Regions from separate parts of the Homo sapiens genome. Here region 1 is linked to region 2. The links come from fine-mapping of genetic effects on gene expression. A gene starts in region 2. The other region holds a variant in brackets. All regions are shown on one strand. Distances are between the middles of the regions.

Evidence for each region.
Region 1: its variant is fine-mapped to the expression of SPTSSA in thyroid (GTEx, PIP 0.97).

What each region holds. Positions count from the first base shown.
Region 1 is chr14:34,378,028-34,380,943 of GRCh38, reverse strand. No RefSeq gene overlaps it. Among named protein-coding and RNA genes, the nearest start is that of SPTSSA, 83 kb to the left of the region's middle. The variant T/A (reference allele first, on the strand shown) is at 1,173.
Region 2 is chr14:34,460,829-34,463,744 of GRCh38, reverse strand. It overlaps SPTSSA (serine palmitoyltransferase small subunit A), which reads left to right and starts at 1,505. Exons shown (of 2, transcript NM_138288.4): 1 at 1,505-1,649. The coding sequence starts at 1,538. RefSeq lists silencers at 983-1,492, 1,613-1,782 and enhancers at 692-1,642, 2,183-2,292.

The DNA of each region.
Region 1 (2,916 bases), 83 kb after region 2:
CAAACAAACATCTAGCACGGGAACAAAGGCAATTGGAAAATAGGTTAAGCATATTTTTAGGAAGCTGAACAAGTTTTTAAGAGCTAAAACAAGTGAGAAGTATGCTAAGTAATGAAGTGTGGACTTACAAAGCAGCCTACTGTAAATTCTTTTGATTATTAATTTGCTAAAGGCCCTTGAGTCATGAATACAGATGAAAATCTATGGAAAATTGACACGTGTTCTCAAATTGGGGCCATACATCACCACGGCCAAGATATGGTGCAATATGATAGTCTTAAATGCTTAACGTAATGCTATGCCTATAATTACATGTATGGCGTTATCTTTAATATGAACTGATTAATGAGGGTGACATAAAGCAAGGATGAATGTTAGTTATTCAGACACTGATGTTCAGATAGCCACCTGAGAAGTCATTTTTCTCAAAGTTCTATTCCTTAAGGATTGTAGAAATGTCAATTGTTTTTGCAGTTTCCATTTCAAGAAGCAGTTATTCATAATCCCCAGAGAACTCTTCCCTAACAGACTACAATAAAACTTACAATTAATGGTGGTGACATTTTAGACCTAAATTACTGCCTTCATGCTTTAAATCATTATCCTGCTATCCCTATGCATGGAACTTTCAAAGTTTTCATTTCATTCCTGGCTTATCTCTCATCTCCACTGCGTGACTAGTTCCTTGTCCCTTACAAACGAATGCAGGAGGCTGAATTTCTAATGTTCCCCTTAAAATTCTCCTACTTGTTAACAGTACTTTTATGGTAGTTCATCTAAAATAGTTTTTCAACAAACTTCTCAAAGGCTGTCTCTGGCTGTCCATTTTCTTTCTTCATTTTTTAGCTGAATAGCTGGTATACACTAGTCCATTCTGGTATTTGTGTGTTTCCTCCCCTCTCTCTCTTTTTCTACTTTATTTCTCAAAGGTGATTGATATCTTCAATCCCTAGTTACCCCATCATGTGAGCCTCTTTGTTCTCCATGTCCTTCCCACTCTGCTCACAGGGCCCTTGGACTCTGCCTCCCTCTCTCTATCCTTCTTCAAAGGCCACTAAAGAGGTTCTTTTTACGAACTTTTTCTTGGTAAACTGAAGACAGAGTGCTGGGAAACGAAACCTTGAAAAAGACCTTGGAAACCTTGACCAGACGCTGGGCAGTCTGGTTCCCTT[T/A]GTCTCTCAGCCCCCAAGGGCTTCTCTCCTCTATCCCTGCTGTGAGCTAGTCACTGGAAAAACACACCTGACCTTGCCAGCCAAGTGAGGGTGCCAAGAATGAGAGGGAAGCATTCTTCTCATCAGCAGATGGGAGGTCTCCCTCAAAGGATTTCTCAATGCCGCCTGAATCAAAGCCTGTGTTTCCCAGAGCAAGGTATTCCCTGGAGGCCTCCTGAGCTCTGGCCACAGTGTTCTCATACAGCTAGCAAGAAGTCATAATGGAATTCGCTCCAACAATCCCACTGCCTTGTTGTTGTTCTGTTCTTGAAGCTTACTCTGTATCATAAACATAATTATAAGAAGAAGTTAAACATATAAATGTGTTCTAAAGAAATGGGCTTTTGTGGCAGGGCGCAGTGGCTAACGCCTGTAATCCCAGCACTTTGGGAGGCCGAGGTGGGTGGATCACCTGAGGTTGGGAGTTCGAGACCAGCCTGGCCAACATGGTGAAACCCCCGTCTCCACGAAAAATGCAAAAATTACCCGGGTGAAGTGACACGTGCCTGTAATCCCAGCTACTCAGAGGCTGGGGAAGGAGAATCACTTGAACCTGGGAGGCAGAGGTTGCAGAGAGCCGAGATCGCGCCACTGCACTCCAGCCTGGGCGACAGAGCGAGACTCTGTCTCAGAAACAAAACAAAACAGAAATGGGCTTTTGCTATGCAGTGGATGGGACCTCGGCTTTTTGAGAGTGATTGGTGGTATGCAAAATGTGGAGAATCCCTCCTCGAGGCCAGATTCTTTGGTATCAATAGTGCTTCATGTAGAGATCCTTTTGTTTGGATCTCTACAATCTTTGGATTGTTTGTCAGAGATTGAGAAGGCACCAGTCTCCTCCTTTTCCCATTGGTTACCACCTCCTGTGTGCATAGAATATTGTATTTTTAAAATCATAGAGTTAGAACATAGGGGTGTGGGTAAATTTTCCTTAGTCCAATACAATTAATTTGATATCCAAAATGAGCTTGTTTCCTGCTTTGCATTTCAACCCCCTAACCCACCCATCCCCACTTTACCCAACATTCTTTGAAGGCTGGGGTTTATCTCATCGTTGAGAAGGAAAAGGCCAAAGGCTTGACTTTCAAATAATTCATTTCCTGCAGTCGCTCACATTCCCAGTCTCTTTTCTTGTTCCTATTTTTAGCTGGTCATAGCTCTTTATAATTTGGAAATTAAAGTCCTTAAAAACAAAGAAATAAACAATTTCACTGGGATGACTGTCAATTTTAAAATAAGCAATTGTTGAGTGCCTACTATAAACTCAGAATGGACTAGGCACTTAAAAAAAGCCAAATTAAAAACAAGGTCCATGTCATTAAGAATCTCATAGTCAGCAGGGAAGGCAGTTGCATAAACAAATAATTTAATACAAAGAAATAAATTGCTTTCATGAGGTTATATATCTGGACCAATGAGAAAATCGGAGAAATGGAGCTTCTTAGTAGATCTGGGCAATGCAGACAAAGCTTTCCAACAGACATATCTTCTCTAGGAGGAGTGTGTGGGGAGGGGTTGTTACAGAGGTGGAGGGGATAGTATGTAGCTCAGAGAATGGCATGTGTGCAGGCCCAGTGGCTCTGGAGGACAGCACGTACTCAGAGTCACCACAGCAATCGAGTATGTCTGGAGAACTGGCTGTGAATGGGTGCAGAAGGAGACTGAGACTAGGAAGGAATGCAGGGATGAAGATCACAGAAGGCCT
Region 2 (2,916 bases):
TCTGGCTTGCTATCCCAATGTCTGGCACTTGATATTACTTACTGTTTTCTTTCTTTTCTTCTCTTCTCTTCTGTTTTCTCCTCTCTTTCTCTGTCTCCTTTCTTTCCTTTCTTTTGCTCTGCCACCTAAGATGGAGTGCAGTGGCACCATCCTGGCTCACTGCAACCTCGACCTCCCGTGCTCGAGCAATCCTCCCGCCTCAACCTCCTGAGTAGCTGGGACTACAGGTGCACGCCACCACCCCTGGCTAACTTTTTGTTATGTATTTACTTATTTTTTTTGGTAGAGACGGGGTTTCACCATGTTGCTCAGGCTGGTCTCGACCTTCTGGACTCAAGTGATCCGCCAGCCTCAGCCTCCCAAAGTGCTTGGATTACAGGCATGAGCTACGGCGCTTGGCCGGCACTTGGTACTTTTAATGAATAGTTATTAACCATGAAACTTTTAAAGTTTAAGCAGTAGTATGTTTAACCTGGAAGACTTTTAACATTTAAACAGCAGGCCATTTAATTGTGGCAGTTCACATGCTACACCAGTGCATGGAGCTCCTTGTGGCCAGTGCAATGTTGCTGGCCCATCTGGCAGTGGGAAAATCTGGGCATCCAGGAGTGCATCTCTAGGGAAGTATCACCAGCCCTCACACCAATCTCAAGCTGCCTGTCTTCTGCAGAACCCACTAGATCAGCGCGCTTCTGGCCTTGACCCACTTGGTGGTTACCTACAGCCACTAAGAGGTGGGCAGATAGATGTTTTTGGTAAGTGGTCTCTGGGTTAGGGAGTGCATGGGTTATGTCCGTCTAGGGGTGTGTGTGTGTGTGTGTGTGTGTGTGTGTGTGTGTGTGTGTGTGTGCATGGGTGGGGGAAGGGAGGAAGGAGGCCGAATGTGCATCCCTTCTACAAGGACGCCTTTCCAGACCTCCTTATTAGGTGGCGTTCGCCTCCTCACCCTCTCTCAGCCCCTTATCTCCTCTTACACGGATCACGACTTGATTAATGCTTGTCTCCCAGCTAGGCCGCCAGCTGCACAAGGTAAGGAACCGAAGGCATTCCGGTTCTCCCTGGCAATCCTCCTTCTCAGAAGGATGCCTGAGGCATAACAAGTGTTCCAGAAATATTTCTTCCGCAAGCGCTCTGGGCCAGTCTGGACGGACCGAGCGCCCGCTGGGCTGCGGGGGCCCCGGGACCCCGGCCGGCACTGACGCCCCGCCCACCACCGGCCGGCCCGGGCGGGGTGGGGCGCGGCTGGGCGCTCTCGCGGGGACCGTTCTCCGGCTAGCGTGGGCGATGCCCGGGCGGGGAAACGGGAGGGGACGACGCGACGCGAGGTAGCGGCCTGGCCAATGAGCGCGGGTCGGGCGGGGCTGGGGGCCGGCGGCCGGGGCGCGCGCGGGTCTGGGCGTGCCGCGGGTGACGGCGGGGCCGGGCGGGCCAATGGGCGCTGGGTGGCGGGCGGGCGGGCCTGGCGGCCGGGGGCTTTAGGACGTGAGCGGGCGGCCGGCCGGACAGACTGACGTGTGAGCTGCATCGCGGGAGGCGCATGGCGGGGATGGCGCTGGCGCGGGCCTGGAAGCAGATGTCCTGGTTCTACTACCAGTACCTGCTGGTCACGGCGCTCTACATGCTGGAGCCCTGGGAGCGGACGGTGTTCAGTATCCTGTCCCGGCCGCGCGCGCGGGGGCCGGGCTGGGGGCGCGGGCCGCGGGGCCGCATTTCCCCAGGCCCCGGGCCTGGGGTGGAGGCTGGAGCGGCGGCCCCGCCGGTCCTGTGCGCGGAAGCCGGGGGTGCAGGGGGAGGTCTGGGGGCCGAGGGCGGCGCTCGCGGGGTTAAGTGGGGGGTGGGGGAGACGAGAACTCTTGAGATCCGGGGTCACCTGTGAGTCGCTGGACCCAAGGGGGAAGCGTCTTGATTCCTGGAGGAAATCTCCGAAGGTGATGTGTAACCCTGTGTGTCGCCTGCACTTCGGCCGCAACTGCCTTTGGTTCAGTCCCCTGTTCCTGTAGGAGGCGGGGATCATGTAACAGTGGAGCACATCGCTCCCGGCTTGGACGCCTTTGACCTTTAAGTGTTCCTGATTTAGTTGGCTTTGGGTCTACCAAGAATTCTAGTCAGTTAACTAGCTTTTAAGCCAGGTTCTGAATTTGTAGGCATGACACTCCAGTAGTTTTTGAAAGCAGTTTAAGTTATTGTATCTTTTTGGTCTTCAAGTTGGGGAGTTTTAAAAGTGTATTTATTGCTTCTGTGCACCGTCCGTAGAAGTCGGCCCGAAAAGTGGTGCAATTTGTGGTTAGTTGTCGGTAGGGTTTGAAACTGTGTTTTGGTGGATAGTTAATAAATTCTTGTTAATGACTATTGAGTGGTTACTATAAGCAAAGCATTTGTGCAAAGCACGTTGTCTGTATCTTAACTCATCTAACTTTGAGAACTTCAGTTAATAACTCAGGGTTGTGAAGATAGGCTCCCTGAAAGTCTGATGTTTCTTGTCTCTGCTTGTCCATATTGACATCCTTTGATGATATTCTTGCAGATTAAATACTGATAATGAATGAGATGTAACTTTTAAAAAACTCAGGCCAATACAAAACAGGTATTTCACAAAACATGTTTAGTTTATCCACGTTCTCTCCTTTTCAGTGTGGTTTAGTTGGAGTAGCTTACTTCAGAATAACTTTGCGAATGCATTGTTGCATTCCAGTGAGTGACTGAGGTAATTTCATTCTAAGCCTTATCAAGTGTGTTTATTTGTTTTGAGATAGCTTAAGGTTGTACTCAAAGCTGAGTCTTTTGTTTAAGCACTTTTGAGGAATTTGAGATGCTTTCAAAGCAGTTTATTTATTTATTACTGTTGGCATTTCTTTCCAAACCTGGAATTTAAGAACCAGAATGCATATTTTGGATTTAGACTCTGAATATAGTTTG